4 linked regions of the Homo sapiens genome follow. The protein of the gene in region 3 interacts with the protein of the main gene of each other region in a pairwise test. Each region holds a gene or a part of one and is shown on either strand. Other genes may lie near its edges.

The links.
Region 1: the proteins of UPK1B (region 3) and DAGLA interact in binary tests that used the Homo sapiens proteins (3 or more experiments, as listed by UniProt).
Region 2: the proteins of UPK1B (region 3) and TMEM45B interact in binary tests that used the Homo sapiens proteins (3 or more experiments, as listed by UniProt).
Region 4: the proteins of UPK1B (region 3) and CD69 interact in binary tests that used the Homo sapiens proteins (3 or more experiments, as listed by UniProt).

Annotation. Positions count from the first base shown.
Region 1 is NC_000011.10:61,738,593-61,746,996, reverse strand, and holds part of DAGLA (diacylglycerol lipase-alpha), read right to left. Parts: intron 7,821-8,404; coding exon of another isoform or gene 7,699-7,820; intron 7,533-7,698; coding exon 7,336-7,532; intron 6,535-7,335; coding exon 6,405-6,534; intron 5,836-6,404; coding exon 5,648-5,835; intron 3,466-5,647; coding exon 2,508-3,465; 3' UTR 1-2,507. UniProt on the Homo sapiens protein: Serine hydrolase that hydrolyzes arachidonic acid-esterified diacylglycerols (DAGs) to produce the principal endocannabinoid, 2-arachidonoylglycerol (2-AG).
Region 2 is NC_000011.10:129,817,903-129,826,306, reverse strand, and holds part of TMEM45B (transmembrane protein 45B), read right to left. Parts: intron 1-8,404.
Region 3 is NC_000003.12:119,190,131-119,198,534, reverse strand, and holds part of UPK1B (uroplakin-1b), read right to left. Parts: intron 8,291-8,404; coding exon 8,216-8,290; intron 7,554-8,215; coding exon 7,431-7,553; intron 4,317-7,430; coding exon 4,137-4,316; intron 1-4,136. UniProt on the Homo sapiens protein: Component of the asymmetric unit membrane (AUM); a highly specialized biomembrane elaborated by terminally differentiated urothelial cells.
Region 4 is NC_000012.12:9,751,044-9,758,363, forward strand, and holds the end of CD69 (early activation antigen CD69), read right to left. Parts: intron 5,377-7,320; coding exon 5,254-5,376; intron 4,219-5,253; coding exon 4,019-4,218; intron 3,648-4,018; coding exon 3,544-3,647; intron 2,547-3,543; coding exon 2,438-2,546; 3' UTR 1,443-2,437; downstream 1-1,442. UniProt on the Homo sapiens protein: Transmembrane protein expressed mainly on T-cells resident in mucosa that plays an essential role in immune cell homeostasis.

The sequences.
Region 1 (8,404 bases), on a different chromosome or scaffold from region 3:
CTACATCCAGTTTATACACAGCTCTATACAATATACAGAAACCTTTATATACAGATATATTTATAGAATAAGCTATATTAATTTGTCTCTCCTTTTTACAGCAATATTAGTTTGGATCTTTCATACATTAAGTACAAAAAAAGTCTGGGGAGAATGGCACGTAAGAGAGTGCATGAGGGTCTGTGGGGCCCGGCTGCTCGCTACTGATTGCATATGGAGTCGCCCAGGCCCCTGGGAGGACAGGCCCGCGCACTTGTGCTGCAGGTCTGGGGATGGAGTGGGGGTCGGTCTGAGCCGAACGGGGCTGAGGGGGGTGGCTCAGACCCCCCAGTGTGGTATGGGGTGGAGGAGGGAGACGTGCAGCAGGCCCATCCTTCAAGGGCGAGGTGGGTAGGAGCCAGGTTAGGGGTGGGCTGCCCCTGGGTGCCCAGGATTGAGCCCAAGCCTGCCCCAGCCCCAAGCCTGAAACATGGTGTGGCTGCAGCCTTGGGGGTGGGGGGTCTGTCCCTGATGGCTCGTCCTGGGGTGGACGACATGCCCACATTAGAGGTCCCAGGACCCACCCTGGCAGAGGAGGAATTAAAAGGCCAGACATCAAGTCTCTCCCTGTGACTGGCCACGGTGCTTGTCAGATCTTTCATCTGAGAGTCTGTCTTGTTTTCTAAACTCTAAGAGCCACTGATTTTGTCTTGCTTCTGTGCTGGGCTGAAGCTCTGTATGCCTCAGCAGGGCCAGGGTGTCCTTGAGTCTGGTGAAGGCGGGAGTTACAGAGGATGAGGGGAGGCCCAGCTCCCTCTGTCAGGGTGGGCAGGGGCTCCCAGGACAGCCATCCAGGCCAGTCCCAGCTGTGTGGGGAGCCGGGGGCCAGAATTCAGGCCCCCAGGTACCAGTGATCATGAGAGGGAGGTCTCTTGGTCGGGGGAGCCTAGGCCACCCAGGGAGGCTGCAGGTGGAGCCAGAATGGGAGGGACCATGCCGCTGCAGAATGAAGGCACGAGCAGGCGGTCAGCCGTGCAGTCAGCGCCTCGGTACACACCAGTTTTCCAAAACGGGTCACAGCAGCAGGCGCGATGGGAACAGATGGTGCCTAAAGCTGAGCTTGTCCCTGCGACCCTGCCTCAAAGGCCCCATCATGCTCCCCTACCGTTTTCTTGGCAGGCTGGGAGGGGCAGCAGGCAGGCAGGGCAGGTAGGGTGGGCAGCCCCAGAGGCCCCTTCCTTAGGAACGGTGCACACTCATGCACATGCATACGCGCCAACACTAGCATGCACACCCTCCCACCCCGCTTCTGGGGAAACTCCGGGTCGCTATCTCCCTAACTGCTTCCCAAACCCAGCAGGGGAGGAAGCCCTATGGGGACCTCAGGCTAAACCGGGACTGCTCCCAGCCCCAGGCCCCTCCCTGGGCAGTGGACAGAGGTCTCCAGCCAAGGCCCACCATACCCCACTCTTGGCCCCACCTCCTACCAACAGGACATTGGGGGTGGGAGGGAGGAAGGCCTGCTCCCAGGAGGGTGCCCAGGCCAGCGAGGAGGGAAAGCTGAGGGGAACAGGGGTGTGTTGGTTCCAGATCCCAGGGCCCAGAGCTGCCTAGGCGTGGTGGGGGTGACACCAAGGGGTGAGGTGGGGCCCTCAGAGGAAGGGGGCTCTCAGTGCCTTCCTTCCACCCAGGGCACTGACTCTGCAGCTGGGGTGGTCACAGCAGTGCCCACCACCCTTTGGGTGGTGAGGATCCTTGGGGGTAGAAGGTAAGCCAGGAAGTAGCCAGCAGGCAGGGCAGGCCTGGGTGCCCAGGACCCATGGGCAGAGGAGGCAGCATGAGAGGCACAAGGCAGAGAAGGGGCGGCCCTGACCCCACCCTCCTCTGGCCCCTCCAGGCCCCTGGCTGCCTTGGGCCCTGCTCAGAGGACGGCTACTGAACACATGATTGGGCGGGGGGCTTGCAAGCCCAGAACACATCCTGAGCCAAGCCCAGCAGCTTCTGTAAACATGTACAGCACTGCAGGCCACCTCGGCAGGGGCACCCCAGGGGGCCGGCCAGCAGGCACCAGATCTGGGGGGTGGCCAGGACGATGCCGGCCTGGACCACAGATGAGAATACATGTGTCGGGGGGCACTGCTCTCCACCTGGCCCCTGGGAGAGCAGCCAGCAGGCAGTGATGGGAGGCAGCTTGCCCATGGCCTGTCCTGGAGCAGGGGGTGCCAGAATGCCCCCATGGAGGGCAGTCAGGCTGAGTGTGGCCCACCCAGCAGGCTGCCCAGGCTCCTCCCCACTCCACACCCTTCCCCATCTTTCCCCATCTGTGGGGCCAGATCCCAGCCACCTTGGCTCTGGGGGTCCTAAGCTGAGGTAGGGATGCGGACCCCCAGCTCAGCAGCGATGCCTGTGCCTGAGGCTAAACTGCCCCTGGGGGTCTGTCCTTAAAGCTGCCCGGCAGGGGGCAGGCACCAGGTGCCCACAGGGCCACCTGCTCCTGCCTGGGCCCGGCTGGCCACGCAACTGGGGTGCTAGCGTGCTGAGATGACCAGCTCATCTTGCTTGGCGGGGCTGGCTCCGTGGCCAGTGGGGGTAGAAGTCCGGATCTTGTCAGCCGCCAGGCATTCCTGGCTACTGAGGCCCGTGGGCGTCAGGTCCATGAGCTCACCCGAGGAGCTGAGCGGGAAGGAGGGCGAGAGTGAGATGCCCGAGGAGGGGTCGGCTGAGCCGGCAAAGAGCCGTGGGGGCTTGGGCACCAGGTTGGGCTCGAACTGGGCACGGAGCAGGATCTCTTGCTGGCTGGGGGACTTGGGGCCCTCAGCGTAGTCACTGGTGGGGCTCTCGGGCACCACCATGCAGTAGAGGTCTTGGAAGGAGCTGCTCTTGCTGTCCAGGTTGAAGAGGCTGTCGATGAACTCGGCGAATTCCAGCACCTGAGGACTGGGCGAGTCCCCCAGGCGCCCATTGTGCAGCGCCAGCTCCCCGCGGGAGGCCGGCCCGCCACCCCCACCGCCAACCTCTTCCTCCTCGTCATTGGCCGCAGCACTGGGGGGCCGCTCAGGAGTGACGCCGCCACTGCCCAGGGCCGCCTCCAGGGGCTGCGTGTCCTGTGAGTGCTTGGACAGGCTGTCGGCCGCCAGCAGCTCAGTGCGCGAGCTCAGGGATGGGTTTTCCTCGGGGATGGCAGGGTCAATGTAGAAGAGGTGGCCTTCATCACGCTCCAGCACAGCGTGGAGGCTGGGGGAGCCCCGGATGCTGCGGAAGCCTGAGGAGCGGCGCGAGTCGAAGCTGTACAGGGACTCAGTGTCCGAGAGGCTCTCCATGGTGGCCAGTGGTGCCCGCCGGGCCTGCAGCTCCGCCGCCAGCCGCTCCTGGGTAGACAGCAGCAGCAGCTCCACCGGGTCCTGGCGGGCCGCCGCCGCAACCACTGGCGACAGCAGCCGCCCCTCCGAGAAGCCCTCCAGGCTCATCTCAGACTGGGACTTGCTCCTGCAGAGGGAGAGGAGAGCAGGGGGTATAAGACTCAGAAGGGAGAGGGGACTGAACCCCAGCTCCCTGGCTAAAAGGAACTTGCAGGGAATAAAGGGTACAGTTCATTTAGCAGTTGTTGATGATGTGCAGCAGGGAATGCTTATTTTCTTTTTTTTTTTTTTTTTTTGAGACAGAGTCTCGCTCTGTCGCCCAGGCTGGAGTGCAGTGGCACGATCTTGGCTCACTGCAAGCTCCGCCCTGGGTTCACGCCATTCTCCTGCCTCAGCCTCCCGAGTAGCTGGGACTACAGGTGCCCGCCACCATGCCTGGCTAATTTTTTGTATTTTTTAGTAGAGATGGGGTTTCACCATGTTAGCCAGGATGGTCTCAATCTGCTGACCTGGTGATCCGCCTGCCTCGGCCTCCCAAAGTGCTGAGATTACAGGCGTGAGCCACCGCGCCCAGCCAGGAATGATTATTTTTTAAAAACAACTCACAAGAACCCAAGATAGAAGACAAAAGAGTTGATGCTGGGTTGAGCCGCGGGGTCCCTGAGGGGCTAAGGCCCTGCTGGCAGCACTAGGACTTCAGGAGTGCTGCTGGGGTTCTCTGCACCAGAACCCCTGTCATTGTACCAATGTGAGAATGAGGCTCTGATAGACTGGCTGCCCCAGATCACTCATGAGCCTGCCCCAGGTCACTCATGAGGCCACAGTGGAATGAGAGAGACAGAGGGAGGGAAGGAGGGAGGGAGGGAAGGAGGAAGGGAGGGAGGGAGGGAGGGACAGAGGGCAGCAGGGAGACAGGGAAGGGAGAGAGCCCTGCACATAGCTGCCCAACTGGTTCCACCCCAATCTCAGAGCCAGCAACCCTGGGTGCCACTCCCAGGGATCTCATCACTTCCTTCCTCATCCGGGTCTCCTCCTGTCTCCCATGGGCCGCAGCCCTCTGCTGGGTGGGGAGCCTAGTGCCCCTGGCTCCGCAGACCAGCCTGCAGGGAATGAGTGACAGGGCAGGGAGTGGGTGGCTTGCAGCAGTCACCGCAGCCGGAAATGGACACTGGCTTCTTCATCGGGTTGTGCAGCTGCCACAGGAAATGCACAAATGGCAGGGAGAGACGTCCAGTTGTCCCTACCAAGGGCCAGGAAGCAGCCTCTTGACCAGATCTGTGACCAAGCACACAGGGCCTGTGTGGGAAGGTCCTAGAAAGGCAGGACAATCCTCCCCTGGAAGGACTACCACTTAAGAGCCTCGCACCCCTCAAAGAGTGTGTGAATAGCAAGGGCGCTGTGGCCCCCATGTGCGTGCCCCTGTGAGCATGTGTGCACGCCTCTGTTCATGTGTATGAGTGTGTAGACCAGACGTCTGTGTATGTCAGCTGGCTTGTGTGTCTGGGTCTGTGCACAGGTGTATTCATGCATTTCCATGAGCACCTGCCTGTCCACATGTGTCCTTGTATATGTGTCTCCACCTTTGTCTTGGTGTGTGTCTTGTACATGTGCATGTCTGTAGGGGGTGACCTGTGTACTTATAACTAATAATTGTGTGCACATGTATGTGTGTAAGCTTCAATACAAATATGTAAGTAAATGGGTGTCCATCTGTTTGCGTCTAAGTGTGTAAGAGTGAATCTGTGCAGGCCGGCCATGGTGGTTCACCCCTATAATCCCAGCACTTTGGGAGGCTGAGGCGGGCAGATCACCTGAGGTCAGGAGTTCAAGACCAGCCTGGCCAACATGGTGAAATCCCATCTCTACTAAAAATACAAAAATTAGCTGGGCACGGTGGCAGGCGCCTGTAATCCCAGCTACTTGGGAGGCTGAGGCAGGATAATCGCTTGAACCTGGGAGGTGGAGGTTGCAGTGAGCCAAGGTCGCGCCATTGCACTCCGGCCTGGGGGAAAAGAGCGAGACTTCGTCTCAAAAAAAAAAAAAAAAAAAAAGAGTGAATCTGTGCTTTTGTGGCCCAGGGTTTGTGGGTCTGTGTGCCTCCCCTGGCTCATGTAGGATTCAGGGACAGCAGGCTGTGGGACAGCTGGAGCACAGCAAGAGAGCCCTAGAGCACAGAGGGTGAGTTTGACCCCTCCTGTGCACGTGTGCAGAGCTGAGCCCAGTGCATGCACAAAATGCATGTGCACACAAGTCTATGTGCTCTGAACCACACTCACCCTGGGGTGGGGCTGGGAGTGGCCAAGGCTCACCTGACGCTGCTGTTGCGGTGGTCTGCAGTCGGCAGCTCCAGGGCAAGGCCAGTGGGCATGGGCGGCCCCGTGGGGAGTGGCTGCTGCTGGAAGATGAGCTCAGGAGTCAGGTCCACCTCGGTAGGGCTCACCATGACCTTGGCTGCAGAGAGCAGAGCGGTCTTCCCCTTGTTGTAGTTCTCCAGCACCTGAGGACAGGACAGAGGAGGCTGGGGGTGGTGGAGGGACATCAGGCCCCATCGTGGGGCCGATGTGGAGCCAGGGCCCAGGCCTCTCAGGCCAAGCAAAGCCTCATGGAGTCACTTGGGTCCCACTCTCCTCCTCCTGAGGTCACCACTCCCCAAGGCCTGAGACTTGCCCATCTGGTCACGACTCGCCCCACAGCCCGGCGAGTGCTCCTGCCCTACCTGCCTTCAGCCTTTCCGCAGCCAGGGGATGGCTGTGGCTGTCGCTGCTTGCCCATTCATCTGTTAAGGGCCAGGTGGCCTTCCGGGCCTCTGAGCTGAGCCTGCCTCAGGGACAGGCCCCTGGGAGTCTCCTTATCTCCTCCCCACCATGGGGCAACGTGGTGATGTGGACAGAGCCAGGGGTGTGAGGTTGAAGTATTTGAGTGGGGCTTTCTGGCCCAGCTACCTACTTCTCTGAGCCCCAGCACCCTTGTCTGTAAAATCGGGCAGTGATCTGATGGTGCTTACGGGGTTCTGATGGGGTGACAGTGCCTTATTCCCTGGTGGTACCCTGCCGGGAGCTGCCTCACCTTGTTGAGCCCCTCCATGACCACATAGGGCAGGTGCTCATGCAGCATGGCTGGCGAGATGATCACCTCATTGAAGGCCTTGTTGTCGCCCCAGATGGCAAAGTATGTGGGCTCCTCCTGCTCACAGCAGCTGAGAGGGACATGGACAGAGGGGAGTTAAGGGTGGGGTGGTGGCCTGGCCCTCGGTGCCAGGGCCTCCTGGCTCTGTTCTCTGCCCTGCTCAGCAGAGCTGGCATGGTTTGGAGGCCCCTGGCCTGCCTGGCAGCAGGGCTCTGTTCCCTGGCCTGGCTCCTGCCCTGCCCTCAGCCTGGGAAAGGCTGACCTCGAGCCTCAGCCATGGTCCCTCCACAGCCTTCGACCTGCTTTTGGCCTGGGCCACACCTGCTCCACCTGCTGCACGGCCCAGCTCACCAGCTGTGTCAGGGGAGGAAGCCGACCCTGGAGGGAGGAGCCAGGGCCCAGCCGTCTGAAGGAGCACAGTGGGAAAGGTCTACCCACTTGCCTGCTCCTATTCTCTCTCCTGGCGCAGCCCCCACCTTGCTCACAGCTGTCTTCGAGGAATTCCCTTGGTGAAACCAAGTGACAACTGAGGTGTGAGCTGGCCAGGGCCTGAGGGGTGAGCCCTCCAGGGCACCTACTTTTAAATGGACCACCAGTGGGGAGAGCTGCCCTGGGGCACACCAGGGAAGGGCTGACACTGGAGGCAAAGCCAGACTATGGAGAGAGACGCCTGGAGTCCTGCTCAGGGCTGGCCTTTTGTTCCATTTCCAGAGCCCGATGCTGGGGAAACCCCTCCATGGAGGCCCTGGGCCATCTTCTCCCAGCCTCCACCCCCAGCCCCGAGCGGTGATTGAGCCAAGGCCGGCCCTGCTCTCCACTGCCCCTGCCCTGGCCACTACCCCCTGCAGCAGCAGACCCTGGCAGAACCTACCAGCACTGCTCTGCAGGGTGGTTGTGGACCACGTGGATGATGCGGCCGGGCGGGTAGAGTGGAGTGCTGGCTGAGAGGGCTATAGTTAGGTCGCTGGGGTGGGTCCAGAGCCGCGTGCTGGCCAGGGTGGTCACCTCTACCTCCTCAGGCAGCTCCGACTTGGGGATGCATTTGGTGGCCCCCACGATGATCCGCCACTGCGCGGGGTGGAGTGGGAGAGATGGGGACAGAGCTAAGTAGCACTGGCTGGGGGGCAGGGGCAGGGGGACCGAGAAGGGGGGCTCAGCAGGTGAGAGGTGGGCAGTAAGATGGCAAAGGGGCAGGGGAAGGGCAGTGGCCAGAGCATTAAAGGTCGGTGCCCACCTGAAGAGGCAGTGGCTGAGGTGCACGGTGGCCAGACGGCCAATAAGGTGCCAAGGACAGATGACATGGAATTGTTGAATTTCAGGGCTGGCAAGGGGCTGGAAGCCCAGCCAACCCCTCATCTAGTAGATGGGGAGACAGGCCTAGTGAGGGGAAGGGACTTATTCTGGATCACTCCACAAGTCCGAGGCCAAACACACCCTGGAGTTGAGTCCAGCTGGACCTGCCAGGCCTGGCCTGACAAAAGCCCAGGACTAATCTGGTGGGAGCAGTTCCACCTCCCCAGAACCAGGCTCCTCCAGGCAGGCAAAGTCCCACAAAGCTTTGCTGCCCTGCTCACTGCCTGGCACCTGGTACCTGGCCCAGGGCCCTGCCTGCCACAGGGTCTAGGGCACCAAAGCTGGGAACGGTCCAGACGGGGCTGAGATGGTGAATGGGCTGAGGGCTCGCCCGGGGCAGGGGGCGGGGGGCAGGGGGTGAGGAGGGGTGACCACACAGAGGACCCTCTCCTCCTGCGCTGGCCTGCCTCAGTGTGCCTGGCCACCATGTCCCCACCCCCACCTGGCCACCCCGTCTGCCAGTGTCCTCCAGAGACCTGATGCGGATTAGGAAGGGCTGACCCTCTCCTCTTGGTCACAGCAGAAAATCAGAACAAACTGTACCCAAATCCTCTCCACAGGTCATTCCCAGCCCTCCCTGAGCCTAG
Region 2 (8,404 bases), on a different chromosome or scaffold from region 3:
AAGTGCTGGGATTACAGGCGTGAGCCACCGCGCCCGGCCTCTTTATTTGTTAAATAGGGAGTTTGGAAGAGGGACTCTCCATGGCTCTTCTGAATTCTGAAATTCCTTTATGTCTTTGCTCCTCATTAATACATCACAAAAACGAAATGCAGAAGTTGGAGCAAGTTTTGGTCATGGAGAAGGGAGGATGAAACTAAGGCTATGGCTATTACCTACAAAGAAGCAGTTACCAGTTGCCACCTCAGCATACATTAGAGTGAAAGGACATCTCTGGACTTCAAAGGTGGGTTTAGTTTTCAAACAACCAAAAAAAAAAACCAAAAAAAACCTTACATATATTTCTGTAATTAACACTATCCTTAACTCAGCCATGGGAAAGAATACATTTAGTTCAGAATTCTCTTTCTGGGCGCTCAAGGAAAATAATAATGGAAAGATCTCTCCAAAGTCATGGAGTCAAATTTCCAAGATGCCAGGCCACTAAGGAACATTTCTTCAAGGCTTGGGCTCTCTGCCTTCTCCACCTCTTGGAAAAAGTGCTCAAGCTTACAGACAGACTCCTTCCTTCCTTCCCTCAGCATCCACTACCAGTGGGCTTGTTCAGCACTGACATTAGTGAGCAGGCAGAGGCTGGGCCTTCCACTTTACTCAACAGTCCTCCTTGCATAAGCCCTTACTTCCGTTTCCTCTTCCCCTTGCAAGAACTCTCACGCACACCCATGGATTAATCACCACTTGCACAATGGTGACTCCCACAACTTCATCTCCAGCTCTGGCCTTGTCTCTAAGTCTCAGACTCATAGATCCAACAACCTGCTGAACAGACAGACATGCACATAAACGTATAGATGTTTCTTAGACACCTCAAGTCAGTATTTCCAAGACTGAACTCACCATCTTCTTTCCCCACCAAATCGGCTTCTCTTCTCATATCCCAAACTTAGTTAATGGCTTAATGTCCAGTCACCCAGAAAGCCAGAATCTTGGGAGTCATTCTGGACTCTCTTCTCCCCTCACCATTGCCCCCAAAGACATCAAAATTCTGCTAAATTCGCTTCCCCAAGTATCCTGGTATTTTCTCTTTCCCTTCTGTGCCTGCAGCAATGATCTCATTTGGTCTCTCATTGTCTTTTTCCTAAACACTGCGAGGCCTCTAGTCCTGCTGTCCATGAATTCTTCTTCCACCCCGCAGCCAGTCATCCACCTTCCGTGTACATCTGACTACACTACTGGAGGATGGAAAATGTTCCATTGGCTAACCAGCAGCCTGTGGAGGGGTCCACGTCCCCTTGCATTGGGTATACCTGAATGTGGCTCCTCTCCAGTGTCACCTCCCAATTCTCCCCACCATGAACCTGACAGTGTCCCCTTTGCTCATGTTGTCCCCTCTAAATTGCACGTCCTTTTCATTCCTCTTACTTGGTTTCCATATTTAGGCCTTATTTCCTCCAGGAAGCCTCTGTGAATCTCCAGGCTGGGCTAAGCGCCTCACCTCTGTGTTTTCAAAGGACCTCATACATACCATGATTTTTTATCACTTACCATGTTATATTAAAATTATATAGTGACATATGTCTTGCCCATTAGTCTACAGAATCTTCAAGAGTGGAGACCTTATCATCTCCATCAAAAACTAGCACAAGCTTGATACATAATAATAGTTCTTAAACTGAACTGAACTGATGCAGCTTAGCCTTCATCTTGAATCAAGAGAACACCATCTCCTAAATCTAGCCATTGGTAAAATTGTTGGTACCGTTACTATTTTCATACAATTCTTAGAGCTAGGTAAGTCCCTTGATTTCTACTACTGTGTCTCACAGACTGGCATATGTGTGAATCCTTTCCCCCCAGATGATATCTGAAATCACAAGACGAACATAATCCTGGAGTATCAATTTCACCTAAAGATTCTGGAAAAATGATTTTCATTTTAAAACAGATACAGACATATTGTGGGGTAGCATATATTTTTTAGTATTAAGAGAGACTGCACTTATGCCAGGCTGTTCTCAGACAAGTCTCCAGGTCCCTGGGAGTTTAGACTCTATTGTTAGTGCTGACGATTGAGAAACAGTAATCTATAGATCACTGTTTTGCACTGTAGTTTAGTTACTGTTCTAGAGCCTCCCATAGAGAAATAAACAGCCCCAGTGAGACCGAAGCAGGAGCTATCTCAGTAATGGCCAGAAGAGAGGGACTTTCATTGTGGGTCTGAGTTAGGTTTGAAAAGATGTCTGTGTGATTGACAGGTAGGTATTCTGAAATGAGCACAACAATGAGCTTTGTATAATGTATAAAATATGCCAGATTGTAGATCAATGTAGGGGAGGAGGCAGAAAAATGACCATTAGAACAGATCAAAGAGAAGCTCTGGATCAAAGTGCAGGCCGATCAAAGACACTGGAAGGAAGGGAAGGGCACTACAGTCAAGGGATGGAACATGAGGAAAAAAATAATCCAAACTGAACTGTGGCTCAGGAGGGACTCGATGCAGGGTGGTTGGTGATAACCTAAGAAATAATTAGATATTTAGTAGGGTGATATGGGGAGTTTTCAATCCAGGAAATTCTACTTAGAGTCCTAGTAGTTAGAGATCTTTCAAGTTTGTTTTCTTATAGCTATTCCATACCATCAGATTTGAGAATGAGGTAGCATCATCCAAGAGGTGGTGACATAAAAAGATTTAACAGAAACAGAGGAAATAGCAAGGGGACAGGTAGGAAGGGCTAGTTTAAAACAGATAATAGGGTCAATTTAAGTCAACTAACATTTATCAAGTACCTGTTATGCATAAGGCACTGTTCTGGGAGATGGAGTTGCAGGGGTGACAAGCCTGGGCCTGTGCTGTCAGGGAGTTTGCAGTCTTTGTTGAAGTCGCCTAAGAAGGAAAAGCTAACAGCAAAAAATCAGGGTCTAATGGGCAGGCTTTCCAAGTGAGAGGCCTTAAGAAGCTAAAGCAGGAACGATTCCTATCAAACGTAGTATCTGTTCCCTTCACGTGATCTAAAACTTTCCCAGGAAAAAAATAAAAAACATGAATCTGCTCCAAGTTTTGATGATCACTGTGGGGCTGCAGAAGGGAAAAATTGCATGGATTTGGAGGGTGACCTTCAAGGACAGAAATTCTGTCCCAAATTCTAGAGATATTAGAAAAATATTTTCCCAGGCTGGGTGTGGTGGCTCATGCCTGTAATCCCAGCACTTTGGGAGGCCGAGGTGGGTGGATCACAAGGTCAGGGGTTCGAGACCAGCCTGACCAACATGGTGAAACCCTGTCTCTACTAAAAATACAAAAATTAGCTGGGCATGGTGGTGGGCGCCTGTAATCCCAGCTACTCAGGAGGCTGAGGTAGGAGAATGGCTTGAACTCGGGAGGCGGAGCTTGCAGTGAGCTGAGATCGCGCCACTGCACTCCAGCCTGGGCCACAGAGTGAGACTCTGTCTCAAAAAAAAAAAAAAAAAGAAAAATGTTTTCCCAATATAATCCATATTTTGCAAATGGTTATCAAAAAGTAAATTAGTTGTACATGTAGTCAAAGAGTTTTCATTCCCTAGTATCTCAGAGCTTTTTCAATAGAAAATAAAACATGGAGAACATCAGCAACTTCAAAGTGCAGGCGGAGTCAAGGACACATTTCCCATTTTGAATCCTAGACCTCCACCTGTCCACCTTACAACAAGAACCTCCGCTATTAAGCAGATGACATAATAAATACATCTAAGTTATTATGTGACTTTTCTCAAACAGGAATAAATGGCTAGAAATGAGATCTTTCTACAGAGAAACCCATTATATGTACTAGAAAGCACTAGAGACAGATGATGATAAGCCATCAAAAAGGCCTTCTCTGCTTAACCACCCTGCAATGAAGCCAGCCAACCTACAAGCCATGCTCACAGATGACGCACACCATCCCCAAACATGTATAAAGCTTCCAACGTGAAAGGCAGGCCAAAAGCAACATTAAACGTCACTTTAAAAATAGACACAGACATTGTAGGTAGCTGAAGAAAACTTCTAAAATGTAGAAAAAGTACTGAGTTAATATGCTTGGAGAAAGAAGAGAAGATGCTGCGTTCATGAAATGAGAACAGGATACTGTAAAAACCATTCAGAAGACCACACCTCTCGCCAATAAAAGCTCCTGAGAATTAAAAATATAATGGTAGAATGTAAACATTTAATAGCATTGTTGGAAGATTTATTAGAACTAAAAAAACATGGGATATTTTTTAAAATAAAAAAGATAAAATTACAAGACAGATCCAAGAGATCCCATTTTCAGATTCAGTCTAAGTAATTTAAGTTTCAGAAAGAAAGAACGAGGAAATTATATAACAGAAGAAAACCACTCAGAACTGAAGAATGTACTTTTTGGATTGAAAAGGCCTAGAAAATACTTAGGACAGTGACGGATACCTCCCTGTATTCCCCCCACCCCGCCAAAAAACCCACCCCAACATTAAATAACAACATCATGAAATATCAGAATATGAACAATAAAGAAAACCCTACAAATGCCCAGAGATTAGAACAAAATACAAGGGATCAGGAATTAGAATGGCATCAGCCTCTCAACAGCACCGTAAGAAAGTAGAATAAAATAGAGCAATGTTTTCAAAATTCGTACGGGAAATGATTTCTGATTAATATCCCATACCCAGCCAAACCAGCAAGCAAGTGTGAAGGAAGAAAAGTGACATCTCAAATGGGCACAAGCTCAAAAAGCAACCGCATCTTATGGGGCCTGAATCTTATACACTTTTGGGAGCCTTCTTTAAGAAAAAGGCGTAAAATTACAAAAACTGTACATAATTGGGTATGAAAGTACATATGTATTCCACAAGAGATGGCCTAGACAGAAAAAAAAAGTGTGTGTGTATTTAGAATGAGAAAATAAATCACAACAGACAGGGACCGTGGAGGTTCTAGACTCTGTCTTTTCAGATGTGCTTGGAAAATTTACCCCAAATGCTTCTTGATGGCGGCCTGGCGTTTCCTCCCCACTCAACAGCTCCATGCAATTAGCAGCACTCAGAGGGCCCCCATGAGTTTCCTTGGCTCCAGGAAATGACTTCTTGGTGATGAGTTCTCAAACAACTAAAGAAAATGTAGCAACTCCTACACCCCATTCCAGGGGGTTGGGGGAAAGACTGGTCAAGAAGGGAAATGTAAAGATCATGGTGTATCATGTGCCTTAGTTGGGAATAATATATACACCAAACATTGACATATCAAAAATTTAGGATATAACCGTACTGGGAACTTAAAAGAAAGGGATGTGAAGGTGAGAGGGAGGGTGGGGGTGTAAAGGAGCGAAACCCTCATCCTTCTTGGTAGGATGTCAATAGATGTCATCCAGAACTGGAAAAGAGAAGAAGAAATGGCCCGTATCTGCATGCTATTTAGAATATGGTAATATCAGAAAAACACAACCCAAAGCATTGAAAGTAATTGCCGCTAGGGTTCTATACTCAGTATAAACTCAATGAAAACCTTCTACAATGAACGACTTCTAAGACTATACATTGATTTATGTTGACCAAAGCAGATAATTAAAAAATAAAGTATACCCTCAAGAGGAGTGAGGCAAAAAGCTAACAGAAATAAAATAAAGTCGCTTTTGCTAAACTACCTGACATTCGGTGTTTCTCAAAATGTATTCCCGCAACCACCTGCCCTCAGATGACCTGGCGTGCCCGTCCATAATGGAGAATTATAGACCCAGCCCAGACCTACATAATCAGCAGTTCTCAGAGTGGTCCTTGCACTCTACCATTTAAAAAAGTTCCCCTGGACCCACTGCATTACCCATTGCTTTTTAGTAAAACAAACAAAAAACCAAAACAAATAACAACCTATTTAGAGACAGGATCTATGACTCATAAAACACACTATGGCAGATGCTGCTAGCTGCCTACCCAATGTTCATTCTCCCCCCGCCTTATTAACAAAATTCCTATTTTGTTGTTATTATTATTTTTTTGAGATGGAGTTTCGCTCTTGTTGTCCAGGCTGGAGTGCAAGTGGCATGATCTCGGCTCACTGCAACCTCTGCCTCCTGGGTTCAAGCGATTCTCCTGCCTCAGCCTCCTGAGTAGCTGGGACTATAGGCGCCTGCTAGCACGCCCGGCTGATTTTTTGTGTTTTTAGTAGAGATGGGGTTTCACCATGTTGGCCAGGCTGGTCTTGAACTCCTGACCTCAGGTGATCCACCCGCCTTGACCTCCCAAAATGCTGGAATTACAGGCGTGAGCCACTGTGTCTGGCCCAAAATTCTTATTTTGATGTATTGGCAACGTGTCTGTCTCAAACACTAGATTCTCTCTGGTTCCGTCACCGTTAACAGTGTGTATGTGATATGGTTCTGGCCAATGACATGTAAGAAGTCTTTTGGGGTGGGCTACCAGAAAAGCTGTTATTATTATTATTTATTATAAAGAAGGACAGGCCAGGCGTGGTGGCTCACATCTGTAATCCCAGCACTTTGGGAGGCCGAGGGGGGCAGATCACAGGGTCAGGAGTTCAAGACCAGCCTGACCAACATGGTGAAACCCCGTCTCTACTAAAAATACAAAAATTAGCTGGGCGTGGTGGTGCACGTCTGTAATCCCAGCTACTTGGAGGCTGAGGCAGGAGAATCACTTGAACCCAGGAAGCGGAGGTTGCAGTGAGCCGAGATTGTGCCACTGAGAGAGACTCTGAGTCAAAAGAAAGAAAGAGATGAGACAGAGAGAGAGAGAGAGAAAAGAAAAGAAGAGAGAAAAGAAAAGAAAAGAAAAGACAAGACAAGACTCTTCTGGAGCATGCCTCTGCCCGTCTTTCTGCTGCAACTTGCGGAAGTGAGTATGAAAGCTCCATGCTAAGGAGGGTGGTGCGGGAAGACACAAGGAGCCTGTCTCAGATGACGTTCATATCGGAACCCCTTTCCCAGCCCCAGCCTTCTCACCTCCAGACTTCTCGTTCTCTGAGAAAAACAAACTCCTTACTTGTTTAAGCCGCTGTAGTAGGGTTTTCTGTTCTTGTAGCTGAATGAACGTCTAATGACATCTCACACTTTTTCAGATGTTTATCTGACATACCACATTTTATGTATGCCTGCTATGGGCACTGTGCTAGGAATAAGACAAGTAAAGCTCTCTTTGTCATGGAACCAGGAGCACAGTTAGAACAGAAGTTAGAACTTTAGCCACTATAATAACGGCTACAGTTATAATAACAGTTAGAACAGAAGGTCCATAGGCATTTGAGGCTGGGATTCAAGGAGGTTATGTTTGCTGTCACAGACCTCAAACCAAAAGAGTACATCAAAATAAGTCACTGGATTTATACATTTGGCAAATTCTCAAGGGACCACATGACAGAAGGAGCAAAAATCTGAACATTGTTTTTAGCTGTAATTCTCCAATGAAGTAGATTTGGGGAAGCAACATGAGGTACTTGCTTTATTTTTCTTAAATCCGGTTTTCTTCCTTGAAAAACCACAAGATTGGACTTGACAATCTTTAAGGTTATACTCAGCTCTAAGATATTTTTGTAATTATATGGAACAAAGATGGGCATGAAATATACCAAACGAGAGAGTTTCTAAATTTAGATTCTGATAATTCAAGTCAGAAAACATATTAAGTGTTCGGGAAAAACAAATCACAATCTTCCATCACAAAATTCAACAAGAACAACAAAAACCACTCCAGAGGCAGCTGTGGTATTCTGGAAGGAATGTTGGTTTGAGTTCTGGCTCTGCCATTTAATTACTGGCTAACCCTGGACCACATACACAATATCTCTGTTTCCATCTCCTCATTTTTGAAATACGGATTCTAATCTGACCTGAACAGTGCTGTTTACAAACATCGCCTTGTGCTCTATAAAGCCCCATTATGATTTCAACAACCAGCAAGATAATGGCTTATGATATCTAAGTCCTGGCAAGGAGAATGCGGGTGTGTACCTTGCTATATTCAGTTGAACTCTGCATCACATACAGAAGGCTGATAGACCTTTTAGCTTTCCTTTTTCCTCCAGTAGTGTAGCTTGTGGCCATTTAAGTTTTACACAAGAGAATAGAAAAGAGAGATAAAATTTGCTAAAATTCAAATAGTCTATTTGTGTTTGTTTCTAGCCTCAGTGAAGGTTTTGGGGAGAGGGGTAGCTGGTTAAAAGAGTAGAAGCTTAAGAGTTCAAAGAAAGTGTGAGGAGGACAGCACTCACCTGTGGCCTCTAATTGTTCATATTCAGTATGGTCTCATACTGGGAATAATCTAGTGTTTGTCTTATGATCTTTCTATAGAAACAAATATGGAATGTGTCTATAAGTACCATTAGTTGATGACACACTAGTGACTTTAATTCTCTTACAGTAAAAAGTTTTGCAATAGCAAGGACTTTGGCTAGGGG
Region 3 (8,404 bases):
TGGATTCTAGTGAGACCTTGAAGGGTCACAGTGAGCATGCAAAGGAATAATTTTTTTATTCACCAAATCATCCATTCATGCATGCCACAATCCAGTAAGTATTTATACATGGCGCACTCTATCCTAGTCACTGTGCAAAGTTCTGGAGTGATACACGCATGTAAGGCTAGAGCTGCCATCTGAGCAGCCTCTACCAAAGCTCTGGGAACCAAAGGGAATGCCTAGGAAATGCAATAACCAGGGCTGGTTCCATGGACCATGCGGCTCTGCCTCTCACCCCATCTTCCACTACCAGAGGAGGTTTCTCTATAAAGCGAATGAGCTTAAGCTTCAGGGCCCCTTACTTGCAAGACCCTTTCAAGGCCCTGTGCCTAATTTTGTATGCATATTTTTATTGTTTTTCCTAAGAAGGATCCTTCCCTATAATTTGTGTGTGAGGGTGGGGGTGGGGGACTCCAGCCACAAAAAATCTAGCTCCATCCTTGTCATCTACTCATCCTTCACTCATTCTGACTTTGTCATACTGATCTCCTTTATGCTCCTTCAAAAAGCTGGGCCTGCTCCCACTTAAGGGCCTTTGCACTCACAACTCCTTTCTTGTAGAACTTTCCTCCCCAATCTTCCGGTGTCTCATTTTCTCACTTAATTCAAACCTCTGCAAATATCATCTCAACAAAGCCTTTCCTGACAGTGACAGAGAAAAAGACCCTTTCTCCATCCTACTCTATATACTCACCCTGCCTTATTTCTGCTCATGGCCTATTTGGGCCTGGAATTTTATCATGTATTTGTTTGGTAACATGTTTATTTTCTGTCTCCCATGCTAGAATGCAAGCTCCATGAGGGCAGGGATTTTATGTTGTTCACTGTTGAATTTCTAGAACCTAGAACAAGTGCTTGGCACATAGTAGACACGTAATAAACATTTACAGAATGAATGGAACATTAATGTTTACAATAGTATAATTTGCAACACACTTGATGGTTCACAAAACACTCCCATATCTGCTACTCCTTGGTCCTCCCAACAATCCTGGGAGGTGGTCGTTCATCTAATAATATATATATAAGGGCCCACTTATGCCAGGTGCCAAGTACTGGCTGGGCATTTAGCTGTGGCAAACAGAAATGGGCCTTGCCTTCATGAAGCTCACAGACAGAAGCCCCATTTTTTTCACCATCATTTAGTGCCTTTTCGTGATGCTAGTCAATTTAGTGGTACTTTACTTGATCTTCCTTCATTTTATTATAACATTTTTGAGGTATAGTGATCACAATTTGCACATAGCATTTCTGAGTCACATAAACCATAACATAGAATATATATATATTTGCATCTGACATGCTGTGTGAAATTCTAGTTAATTTCTACTATTAACAAGCTTATAGTGACTTCCCTAATTTTGTTAGTCTTCACAGCTATAGCAGCACATTTGTGCATTGTAGATCCTGAAAACCTACAATATGGTTGTCAAAAAGTGAAGCCTGGGCAACACAGTGAGACCTCATCTCTACAAAAAATAAAATTAGCCAGGCCTGGTGGTACATGCCTGTAGTTAGTTGGGAGGCTGAGGTGGAAAGGAGGATCACTCGAGCCCAGGAGCTTGAGGCTGCAATAAGCTGTGATTGCAGCATGGCACTCCAGCTTGGGTGACAGAGTGAGACCCTGTCTCTCAAACAAAACAAAACAAAAACCAGGCTGGGCACGGTGGCTCACTCCTTTAATCCCAGCACTTTGGGAGGCTGAGGTGGGTGGATCACAAGGTCAAGAGATCGAGACCATCCTGGCCAACATGGTGAAACCCCATCTCTACTAAAAATACAAAAATTAGCTGGGTGTGGTTGCGTGCACCTGTAGTCCCAGCTACTTGGGAGGCTGAGGCAGGAGAATCACTTGAACCTGGGAGGTGGAGGTTGCAGTGAGCCGAGATAGCGCCACTGCACTCCAGCCTGGCGACAGAGTGAGACAGGCTCCATCTCAAAAAAAAAAAAAAAAAAAGAAAAAGAAAAACCATTCACTATTCACTTCTTTATTCACCCATCTATCAAACGTCGGTGCTTGCTTTGTGCCAGGCATTATGCTAAGTACTAAAAATATCAAATCTGTAGAATCAAATAATACATAGTCCTCAAGGAGACTCAGAAAAAATAGACTTGGGAACAAATATAGTTCCAGGTAGTGAATGCAATAATAGAAATAAAGTATACCAGGTCTTGGGGTAGCACCTTTTTCTTGGTGGAAAAGGATGGCAAGAGGGGACTTAGCAAGACCTATGAGTCAGGGAGAATGGTGGTGTGTGGGAATCTGGGAGGCTGGGCTAGGGAGAATCAGAAAGGACTAATAGATAAGAGATTATGTCAAAGGAGCAGAATGAGTGAGGTTGAGAAACAAGGAGCACAGGAAGTCAGGAACAGAGAGAGGAATTTCAGAATTCAGGAATTTGGTGGAGGAGTAGGGCTGAGTGATGATGAATTTGTAGTTGGTAGGTAGTGGAGGTGGAGTTGTTAGAACAGATAAAGCCAGGGAACTGTAGGGTAGTGGAGGTGGAATTGTTAGAACAGATGAGGCCAGGGAACTGTAAGGGAACGTGTTAGAAGCATTGTCAAAATGGGTGTGGAGGTCCCAAGGTAGAGGAAAATAGTTCATTTGTATCTTTTCCTCAATTTCTCATCTATCTAAACTTGAGAAAAGCTTCAGGTTTGTCCTCATAACTAAAATATTATATGTGCTAGGAAAAAAGGTATAACTATGAAATAAACTGGTTATCTGAAGACAAATGTCCTATTTTTATCCCTTTCAAAGAGGTAATACAGTTTGTACACAATTACAATCCAATCAAGATTTGTTTGCATGAGCAGTTCCAGTGTTGAAATATCAAAAGCCTTTTATAGTCCTGAGAATAATTATATTGTACACCTTGATTATAAGCAGCAAATTTAATTTTTAATAACAGTCTGAATATAATTGATTAAAACAATGCCAGACAATGTTGCAGTAAAGCTCAATGAGGGTTGCTCTGGACACTGCTGCAAAATAATCTAGAACACTCCCATGCCCTTTTCTGGAATAATGCATCCAGTTCTAGTCCAGGCACCCTGTCAGCAACAGTGCCATGTCCCTCAATCTGAACATGCAGTTTGTACTGCTCCCAAACAAAACAGCCTGACATTTCTCAATTATTTAATGAGCTGGTACACAACTAGCTTTCCTTAAAGAGGTAACTCCCTGAGCAGAGCACAGCGTTTCAGTGTACAGGGTCAGCAGATGCTGACTACAAGTACCTGGAGGTTCTCATCAGGGCTTTTGGGGAATATTAACAAGTCTTCACTGGCTTAGAGTCTGTGCTTGAAGGCAGAAAACTCATGTTTCAAAAGCCAGAGAGTTTTTTGAAAAGACGGACATTTACTAGTTGTGTGACCTCAGCAAGGTATTTATTAGTATCTCTACGTCTAAGTTCTTCGTTTGTAAAACAGGGATCCTACTGGCACCTACTACTGAGCATTAAAGGAGATAGTGTATGTGTGGCACTGGAAACAGTGTTTGGCATTTAGTAAGTACACAATAAATGTTAGTTTTCATGATCGTAATCACATTATCCTCATCAGCCTGGAAACTTTTTCAAAAACTATCTGTATGTAAACTACCTTCCATCCAAATCACCAACCTAATGTTTATTAAGACTGTCCTACTTTACCATTGAATAAGGAATGTGGATGTGTAATTACTACATTTATCCTCAGCAATAGTCATTGCTTTGGAATTGGCAAAACATTCTTTTTGCACATCATCCCTTCCAATTTACATTTTGCAAAACTAGAGCAAAACTTTGTTTAATGTAAATATTTCTTGACATACCAATTCCATACATTGTGCAAATTGTCTTCATTTAAACAAAGTTGGGTTCTGCTATTGCAATTCTCATGTTTTGTTAATTTTATTAAAATGTAAATTTGCCCCTATCAGTCCTGGTTTAGCATTTGCAGTTTATTAACAGAGAAGGAAATAGTTAACATGAGGTTTAGGGAAAAGAATGTAGAATTCCTTACTGAAAGACTATTTCCTACAGTTGACCAATATTTTTCTCATAAAGAGCAGCAGAACCTCCTGGGAAGTCTTGGGAGGAGAGAGGACTCACCTGATTGTGATAAAAACCAGGCACGCCTAGTTTACAAGCCTCCAGGTTGAGAGGTTCTTTAAGATTGTTCATAACACAGCATTGACGAGGCCAGGGATAGTCAGCATCATTATTCTCAGTCCGGAAGGCAGATGTGTATTTTTGCCAGTCTGATGGACCATTTACGCCACAGCAATTGTCCTGTCAGCAGATGAGAGATACAAAATTCTCTTTCGTGGTCCCTACTAGAGCCATCAATGTAGCAACTGAAATTTTATAGAGAAAGAAGATACGGAAAGTGTACCATATCTTACATTTACTAAGAAATCCCCAAATGACAGCTGAAGGTATTGATAACTTACAACTTACATTTTACAGTTTGTAAAAGAATTTTTACACTTCCTACTTTACTAGTCATTAGTGAACCCTGTAGCCATTGACATGTTACTTAAACTGTCTAAGCCTCAGTTTCCTTAACTGTAAAATTGGAATATAGTACCTATCTCATAGAGTTTTTTTAAGGATTAAATGAGTTAATATACTTAATGTGCTCAATACAGTGCCTGGCTTATGGTAAACTCTTAATAAATGTTAATTATGATTGATACTGTACTAATATATTGATATAACAATGTGAGAGAGGAATAATTATTCTGATATATCAGAGCAAATTGAGAATCATAAAATTAAAGATTATATCAAAGCAAATTGAGAATCATAAAATTAAAAATTTTAGTGGTGAAGTTATGAGTAATTGTTCTTGTTTTGCTTTTCTATACATTTAAACATTTTTTAGAGTAATTAGGTATTATTTTTATAATGGGAGAAAATAAAGTGAAAAAAATAACCTGGTGACACAGAGCTATGTCTCCACATAGGGGAGGGAGACCAATTAATACATCCCTTACACTCTGGATAGAATTGAGAATAGAGGACAAAACACAATTCATATAGCTTTCCTTCTTTGTTATCAATTCTCCTAAAATCCTTCAAAAGGGAGGAAGTTAAAACCATGGGTATCTTGGAACTTTTAGAATGAATGTATTCAAGTAAACTTGATGATAAATCAACCATCTTTAAAGGATATACAATTTTGTCACTATGTTATGGGAAATATCTAACCAAGAAAAATAATTATTCTGCATTCTGGGAAAAATGGTTAAGTCTAAGCCAGGCTTATTTCAAACTAGGATTTAGTGGGCACAGAGAAGATTTAAGGGTCCAAAATTGAGCTTTGTAGCACTCCAAGCTTCAGATTTGGGTAAAGAGTGACAACCCAGCAGAGGAGACTAAGCGGGAGTAGTCAGTGAGACAAATGCTGATAAGATGTCAAAGAAGATGAGGACAGAGACTTGGCTATTGGATTTGGCAGGATGGAGGTAATTGGTAATTATGGCAGGGTTGTTTTTGTTGAGTGGTGAGGCAGAGGCCAATTGTAGTTGGATGAAAGCAGATGAGAGGGATGAAAATGGGACCACAAGTGTAGGCATCTCTTCTGAGATTTGCTGTGGAATAAAACAAAACAGTAGTAGGACAGAATAGTGGGTGAATGTTGGACAAGGGAGTCTTTTTATAAGATAGACAATTTAAGGTGTCCATGTAGGCTGTTGAAAGGGAGAAACTGATGAGGCAGATCAGAGCAGGGAAGACTGTTGGGGCAAAGGAGATGGAATGCAGAACAGAATCAAAAGAGCTGGACAAAGGACAGCCTGTGTGACATAACAAGAGAGAAGGCAAAGTGCACAGGTGTATATCAATGTAGATTTGGTGGTAGAAAGATGAGGTGGTTCTTGTCTAATTTCTTCTATATTCTTAAAAACATATGAGGTCGGGTCATCAACTGAGAGGGAGGGTGAGAAGAGGTGTGGCAGGCATGAAGGAAGAACATGTGAAATAGTGACAAGTGAATTTTCTGGGAAAATATACTAGGAAATATTGTGTGCCCATTTGAGCTCTGTGGTCACAAGTTTAAATTGAAATGATCATGGTTGTGTGACTTTTCTCAGCAATGTTTAGCTCTTAGAGTATAAACGAAGAGTGAGCAAAAAGCTATATTCTACTCGGTGGGCTTGGTTAGGAAAGAGTGACCCACAGAGAAGGGTAGGGAAGGACTGGCTATGGGGCTGGACCTGAATATGGGTTAGGCAAAGAGGAAAGAGAAAACATGAAAGGGGTGATAAAAGTTAAAAAGTGGTCAATTAATTGGAGGTCCTAATGGAATAAAATTATTAGAATTGAGATATTAGAATAAATGAAAGAAATGATAGAAATTAATGGTCAGAGAATGGAATGTTCTTAGTGGCACAGTTACTGGTGATGGCATGCTGACTATGGTCATGGAAGAGGGTGGAGGTGGGGAGAAAGACAAAATCTTTGGAATGGGGTAGGACAAGGAATTGTGAGACTAAATGTTGCTGAGTCATCCATGTGGCTGCTGAAGTTTCTAGGTGGGATATCAGGAGTATGACTGAAGAGGTAGATAGTTAAGTGAGATATTGAAATCCCTAATGAAGGCAGGAGAACGACTGAGGGTAGGGAGGCTGGTAAGTAATGGCAAGGAAGGATAAGGGGTGATGTAGATCAAGGAAGCAAATAGTATGGCAGCCAAGGGGAGCAAGAAGGACACCTAGCCAATTTCCAGGTCCTATGGTACATGGATATGGGAGGAAAATGAAGGGCAGGTAGCACTCCCAGGAGATAGCCAAATTTCCAATGAAGCAAGAAAAAGATAGTAAAGAGTTCATAGAAGGAGTGGTGGCTATAAGGGAGTTTGCTGATGACAGACTGTAAAAAGTTGGTGGTGGGGTGTGGAGTAGGAGCAGGGGCCAGTAAGAAAGCTAGGTCAGATTGGTAGTTATGTAGAGGATAACAATTTGCATACAGAGGGCAATGTGGGGGTGATGATGGATATTCTGGAAGACTTGGACTTTTGATGGCACTGGAGATAAACATGGACATAAACTATGATTGCCAGTTGGAGAAAATTGGGTGATCAAATCAAGATATAGGGCCTGGTCCTTGGCAAGACTAGCTCACAGGAGTTGTGAAGAGGTACCCAAAAGGCGAAACAGGCAGTAATTACCACTCGAGTTCACTGTGGGGTAGAGAAAATATTTTTCTTTTAATGTAAATGATACCTGAGTTCTAAGAGGGAGAGTGTATGATTAACCTAAGTTTCTTGACAAAATCATTCCAACAAATGTAAGCTAATCATCATGGCTTGAAATAAAATATAGGGTCCCACTGAGTCATGTGTATGACACCCACTCCCACCAGTAAGTAAAAATGGCATCTCCCCAAGACCACAGGTCTTACCTGGAGCATGAGCCTGTCCCAGGTTTTGGTGACTCCATTGTTTTTCCACTGGTCATCATTGTTTGGAGGGCTGTTGTTTTGGTACCTCTCTAGCATCTGCTTCAGGAAGAGGTTGGGTGTGAACTATAGTAGGAAGAGGCAACACAAGAGGGAGAGATAGCACGCTAATTTTCAAGGAGAGGAAAATATTTTTCTCTGTCTTTTCCTGGGGACACTGAACATTCTCTCCTGGAGCAAAACTGTACTCAGAGGCACCAAGTACAGCTGGCTGAGGTTGGCATAAGTCCCCATGCAGAGAAGAGACTCTCATCTTAAAAGAAATCACTATGAGGCCAGGGGAACACATACTGTAGGGTGGCTTAGGCTAGGAAAACAGAGAATGGGAGAGAAAGAAAGATGTAGAATTGAGAGCACGTCTTAGCTGAGGTAGAACAGAGATCCTCCCATTGGAAGGCCCATGGCCATGGCAGAGTGGTGAAACCCACAGGGGATTACAAACTTGGGCCCTGGGAGTCAGGCCATCTGGGTTCAGAATTCTTGCTCTTTCAGTTGCCAACTATGTCACTTTAGACAAGTCATTTTACCTTTCTGTCTCATTTTTTTTCCTTTCTCAAATGACCAGAGTGATAATGCCTATTTCATAGATTTATGAGGATTAAGTAAAATGATAGATGTATTATTACTGTGCATATTGGATTGCCTGGGCACATAGTAAGGGGTTAATACATGTTGGTTGTTATAATAATGATAATTCATATTATTTTGCTTTTTGAGGTTGTACTCACAAAGTCTTGTTGTGTTGCTGCTGTGATACAAGATGCCACTTCAAAGGCATATACTATAAACATCAGAATGAAATACTGGAAGGGAAATAAATGAGATAAAAGAATTACATTTACCCGTCAAAGAGCGACTTGCCCAAATAATTATGTTTTTTCAGCAAATTTATCATATAATCATGTAATCACTCATGT
Region 4 (7,320 bases), on a different chromosome or scaffold from region 3:
ATTATTCCCTTTAAGAATTGTATATTTTTTATCTATTTAAAGAAAACAGTTGTCCTTATGAATAAAATGACTTCAAATTATGTGTAAAAAATAACTCTGTTATCCGTGTTTTGCGTCGCTTTTTCAACATAATTTCAACTTCTTCCTCTGGAAAGGGAAATACATCAGCTGCTCATTTCACATAATTATAGGGATTCAATAAAATTATTTGTAAAAATGATAAAATTCATTGAATTGTTAGGTGATACAGTCAGTATTCAATGACTTAAAAATTGTGTCATACTAATATAGAAATATTTTTAAGCTTGCTCTCAATTTTCATAATTTGATTAGATTTATGCACATAAAAATATGTTATAACTAAAATATTAATCGCAAGACATTGTTTTCTAAGATGACTCGGGAGTAGATTGTTGGTAATGATAGAATATTACCGCTAGGAGGCTGCTTGTTTCTTTTTTCCCACAGCTGTGGGAACTCAGGAGCACAGAGGTCATTATTTTTCACTAAGCAGTGTCTGAAATCCACATTTCTGTTTGCCGTTTGCCAATAGTTTAGAGATACCATACACATCATACATTTCCAACAAGCAGAGAAGAATATTGCAAATTACATTTATAAAACAATTTTGAAGGTAATCAAATGTATTAGGCTATTCTTGCATTGCTATAAAAATATCTGAGACTGGGTAATTTATAAAGAAAAAAGGCTTAATTGGCTTACGGTTCTGCAGTTTTTACAAGCATAATGCTGACACTGCTCAGCTTCCGCGGAAGCTTAGGGAGCTTTTATGTATGTTGGAAGGTGAAGTGGAGTGGGAGCAGGCATGTCACATGGAGAAAGCAGGAAAGAGAGAGAGAAAGAGAGAGAGAGAGAGAGAAAGTGCTGCACACTTTGAAAAGACCAGATCTCCTGAGAACTCACTCAGGTGCAAGGAGACCATCAAGAGGATGATGCTAAACCATTCATGAGAGATTCGCTCCCATGATGTAATCACCTCCCACCAGGCCCCACCTCCAACAAAGGGGATTACAATGCGACATGAGATTTGGGCAGGGACACACATCCAAACTACATCATTGAGTTTTTTGCTGATTGAAATATCCCATGAAGATTATGCCTCTTTTCTATATATTGAATTATTTTACATAAATAACTAAAGTGTATGTAGCACCTCAGAATTGAACAAGATACTTTCAGAGCATTGACTATGAGGAGTAATTATTACAGAGCATCTGCTATATACAGAAAAATGGATATGGATACATACACCCTTTAGCATATAAGCATATGAAAACAATTTGATATGTATAAGCTATTATAAAACTAAGGGTTTTACTCTACATGGGATTTTTTCCTAAGTTATAGTAACTGTTTTCTGCTTTCTCATATAGTATATACTTTTTAATGTATTTTGAAGGAATGAACTTTCTTGGAAACCATTGTGTTTATTCTACTTTTATTTCACATATATAAAAACAGCTTATAATTGTACTGAACACAAAATACAAACAAATACATTTTATTGCACATAAAAATATTTTAAATGAAGTATTGAAGTATTGCACGTAATAGAATTGATTTAGGAAAGTCACAAACCTATTATAAGACTAGTATTATTCTAGGTCTGAAGATTACAGAATATTTCCTAATAGAGATTTGCCACATCACATATTGCACATTTTCCAACACTATTCTATGTCTTGCAAATATTCCTCATAGTCTTTGCTTATGTCTTTTCTCTGTAAGACACTGTATAAAAGATTATAAAGGCAAAGAAATATGTACCATCGAAAAGGACCTGTCTACAGCTGAGGAAGTAAAAAAATAAATACATGATCATCCCATTCTTTTTGGGGAAAAATAACAAAGTAAATTGGCAAATTTCTCTAAAAAGAGAGAAATATTACAAATCTTAGTTTCATAAGCATTTGTCCATTTATAAATGCTCCCTGAGTTTAAGGGATTCAATTAGACTAAAAACCTATGTTACCAGCCATAATTCCTTTGTTTACATTCAGTATCTAGTACCAACATCTAACTCCTTCCAATAGTGCAAATGCATGAAGGGCTCTCACTGTTGGTAGTCATTCAGCAATAAATAGTAAGTCCACGCCTAGTTATTTCATTATTTCTGGATTCAAAATAATATAAAGTGCATCCAAAGGTTGCATAGTCATTCTTCTCATTCTTGGGCATGGTTATTGGTCAACCTGTGATGCTTCTAGCTCATGGCAATAAAAGCCCACAGTGCAGATTTTCCTGGAATTTCTTCCTTTTTTTCCATAGTTCTGTTTGGAAGAAAATTCCCAAGACACTATAAAATTTTTTTTCACAAAGTCTCTATGGAAGACTTCGGACCACAGAGCAGCATCCACTGACACAGATTTCCTTGAGTTCCATTCTATAATAGTCAATAAGTGAACATGTTTCCTTATTATTTGTAAGGTTTGTTACATATCCAGTATAAATTCTTCTCACATTCCATGCTGCTGACCTCTGTGTTTTTCAGAAAAACACACTTGTCAGACCCTGTAACGTTGAACCTGTCAAACAATAAAAAAACTTAGAATTATTTTCAGCTCATTGTTTTCATTCAGTTACATGAGAATGAACTCGGAGATGGTGACCTCTGCTTCTTTTAAATTCTTAGTGGGATACACAAGTCAAATAATCATAGACTAATCTGTAGAGACAATGGACAAGAATTGAAAAAAAAATAGGATGTGGAGAAAAAATATGGAAGTAAGAGGAAAGCACGCCATTCATTTGGTTGGCATGGCACCAGATAAGTGATTCTTGGTCATTTCTGAGTTCATAGATTTTTCAATAAATAATTTCACAAAATTGTATGCATTCAACAGCCATGCATACTAGTGCATACAGCTTTAAGGGGTTTATGGCTCCTGAAGCCCATCTGTGGATATGGAGCCATAGGACAAATATTAGGAATCCCTTTTCTAGAAACCTGAATTTTAATCTCGATACTTTATCAGTATTATGATCAACAGCAAACTTATAAAATGATCTTCAAACATTAAATGTATTTTAACTAAAGGTAATGAAAATAGAGTATCTAATTCTGGGGCAAATTTTCTTTCAGGTGTATAGAAACTCATAATTAGGCATTGAAACTATTCTTTATTCTGTGGAGATGAAAACTGAGAAATAGTAAGAAGGATTTATTTTCCAGCAACTGTCTTATTAGTAAAGACTAAATGTGACATTGAAAATGGGTTTTTGTTGCATCATCATAATTATTATTGAAATATTTCCAAATTAACCAGATCTACTACTCACATTAGAGTTTGCTGAGAAAAATTACTATAAGCATTTATTTTATGTATTATAAGTGTGGATAAAGAAAAAGAATAATAATAAAGCCTGTTATTAAAGAATTCCAGAGTATACGCATTCAGAAGAGATTGTTAGAGCTCTTGAAGAGCTCAGCCTTTATATTTAAAGTGCTTTGAAAGGAGAAAAGGAAAGTGATTTTCCTGAGATGCCACCCTGGGGAATATAAAGAGACTTCTGGAGACTTACCAGTTGTTAAATTCTTTGCCATTTGACCACTTCCATGGGTGACCAGGTTCCTTTTTCAGTCCAACCCAGTGTTCCTCTCTACCTGCGTATCGTTTTAGAAAGTTCTTAAAGAAAGCACAAAGGAGTTTGTTACATTAAACACCCTTCTGGGGAAGTAGATAGTAAATCCTGTTTCTCAAAAGCTGCAACTTGAGGCATGACAGCTTATCTGACCATGTACTCATTCTATATAGGATCAGCATATTTGGATTTCTGGTCTTTGAAGCTAAGCAATCAAATCAAATTTAAAAGATTAAATTAAATCTCATTTTGACCTCAGGCTGATCATATGGTTCTCTGGGATGACATTTTCCTACATCTGAAATAGGTACAATGTTTGTTTGTTTGTTTGTTTTCTCCACTTAGAAACGGAAGGAAAGCACTGATTAGCCATATGAATTAAAATAGTAGTATTTTATCTTTTTTTTATTCTTACCATGTCCTTTTCAGAATCAATGACAGCAAGAGTAGCACCATGTTCAGAACAAGCATTTTGGGCTGAAGTCCAGCTCCTCTTCACAGTAGAAATAAAGTAGCATTTCCTCTGGTAGCCAACCCAGTCCTCAGAGCATGAAGAAACATGGCTGTCTGATGGCATTGAGAATGTGTATTGGCCTGGACAATTGTATTGGCCCACTGTGAACAGAAAAATGCTTTGTTTTAGTAACAAAAGAAACCAAATACCCACAGCATGCAAAACTAGCCTTAGGATGCTATGTTGTGCTAGGTGGTGATAAAGTAAAGGATAAAAGCTAAAAAGTAGAATTCTGAAAAGGGTATGAAGAAAGAAAGTTCTCAGGACCATATCTGATCTTCCATTGTGCCTAATCATCATTGGATGGAGATATGAGGATGAGGGGATGTACTTTTGGTCATAATGTCAGAAAATGACAGAAATATAGAACAATTCTGAAAATTTGGACTAGATATTTCTTTGGACTAGAAAGGATAAAGTGCATTATACATTTCAAATAAGGTTTTGAATCTGAATGCAGAGGCGGAAGAATTTGAAGATGCAGTATTTATAGCACTAGGCTGGAAAGATGGAGAGAGTAACTAACTTTTAGGGAACCAATTCAAAATACAGAAAGACATATGACTCAGAATATCTCAAAACAATGGTAAACATTCCCATTTGTAAAAGATACAAATATATCTTGGTACAGCTGGAGGTATTGAATACCAAATCACTACTGACTCTCTGGGAACTTTTAAATATAATCTTAATTATTCAGAACTACCATTCTGTGTCCTTTGAGATAAAACACAAAAGACTGGCCACTTCCTGATTAATCTATGGCTTTAGATACGATTTTTTTCCATAATCAATGAATGTGAAGTTCACATTTTTTTCTAGCTAAATAGGTATTTATTCAGAATTCAAATCAGCTCCCTTCATTCTAGATGTAAACATCTTTTCAAATGCAATTTTATTCTACAGTAATATATAAATCATAGATACTTTTAATACTTATAAAAGTATTACATTAATTATTCAAGGATTGTGGAATTATGTTTAGTATTGATTAGGAAATTGGCCATATATGGTACATGGGATGATTCTGAATTAGCTAGTTTCTGATTAACTAGACTAAACTAATATTGATTTCAGCTGGGCATGAATGCTTACAGCTAGGAGGCTTTGAAAGAATTGATGAAGTGTAGACCCACCTGATAAGGCAATGAGAGCTATGATTAAAATGGTGATGAAGACCACATTCATTACAGCACACAGGACAGGAACTTGGAAGGACCCTTCATGACGTGTTGAGAAATGGGGACTGGTGGCATCATCTGGAAGGGAGAAAGTTGATGATGAGTTCAGGCAGACTATAGAAGTACTATAGGAATATGCAACATTCTTTTGAGGCATTTAAACTTAATATTTCCTATCTCATTATATGAAATTTCCCCGTCTCTTTATAGAAATTTCTAAGTTAATTTACCCCCAATTTTGAGTGAATTTGAATAGTTTATTGTTGGCTTGAAATGAAACAATTCAAGCATAATGATGAGATTATAAAGTGTCTCCCCAAAATATTTACCTGACACATATGATTTATACACTTAGTAACTATGAAAATTCTAAGTATATAATCAGTTTGTTTTAATGATGATAAGAACGTTTATTAAATATGCACATGCCCCAGAAGACACATAAAAAAATTCTAGGGCATGGTGGCTCACACCTGTAATCTCAGCATTTTGGGAGGCCGAGGTGAGTGGATTGATCACCTGAGCTCAGGAGTTCAAGACCATCATGAGCAACATGGTGAAACCCTGTCTCCACCAAAAATACAAAAAATTAGCTGGTCATGGTGGCACGCACTTGTGTTCCCAGCTACTTGGGAGTCTGAAGTGGGAGGATCGCTTTAGCCTGGGAGGCAGAGGTTGCTGTGAGCGGAGATTGCACCACTGCACTCTAACCTGAGTGACAGAGTGAGACCTTGTCTAAAAAAATAAATAAATAAATAAATAAAAAATTCTAGCATAATTCCTTAATCTCCTTGTAGTTACTGTTTGAGAGAAATGATGTGAATGGGATAAATATGGATAATATCATAAAGTAAAATATTGAATTGCTATATAAATATCTGACATTAAAATGACTGAACAAAATTTTAAACGTGACAGTATTTTTTGGTGAAGTTGCTGCAGATGTGGAGCAACTGGAATTTTCAGATATTATTGGTGGGAGAGTAAATTGGAAAAACACTTTGGAAACTGTTTCTTATAAAATTAAATATATGCCTTTTCTATGGCCCAACAAACCTACTCCTATGTATATCCTCAAGAAAAATGAAAATATGTTCTCAAAATGCCTTGTGCAAGAATGCTCCTAGCAGCTTTATTCTTAAGAGCCAAATTCCAGAAATAATCCAAATATCCACCAACAGGAAAATAAGTGAACAAATTATGGTATATCCATACAAGGGAATTCCGCTCAGCAATTCAAAATAAGACAACTGATACATGCAACAAAATGAAGGAATCTCCAAAAAAAATGTTGAGTGAAAAAAAATCCAGCCACAGAAGATTGTATACTACATATTTGCATTTACATGACTTTAAATAATAGTTGGTCTAAGCTCTGGTGTCAAAAATCAGAACAGTAGTTGCCTTTGTGTGTGTAGGAAAGGTAATTTAACTGGAATGGGACACAGGGCAAACTGTCTAGGGTGATGGAAAGATTCAAATGTTGCTGGTCTTGTGGTTATACCACTGTCATAAGTCGTTAAACTGTATACCTACGAGCTGTGCATTCATCGTATGTGAACTAAACCTCAATTTAAAATGATATGTGAATGAACAGTAAAAATTTGAATTTTTCAAAAGATGTTAAAATAATAGAGGAAATGTAACAGTATTATAGACCAAATATTCAGCGAAAGTTATTTCATTTACCCTCTGTACAATGGTGAAACAAAGTAAAAGCCTTTTTTTTTCCCAACAAGCAGTGTTTCTATGGAAGGATTTAGAATAAAAATATGATGTTAACGATAACTGATAGTTACAAAAAACTCTAAGAGGATGTCTGTTCTACACTCTAAGTAAATAACTGAGGAAGGAGAAAAGAGAATTTTGCGACTTAGATTTTGGATTTTAATTTTGCAGGATGAGCTGTCAGGAGTCTTAAAATGCGGCCCCACAAGGAGTATACAGGTCCCTATTATGTTCTCAAAAACCAAAATGTAAAATGGCTGCTTAAGTAACTGACAATGCAAAACAGTTTCAAAA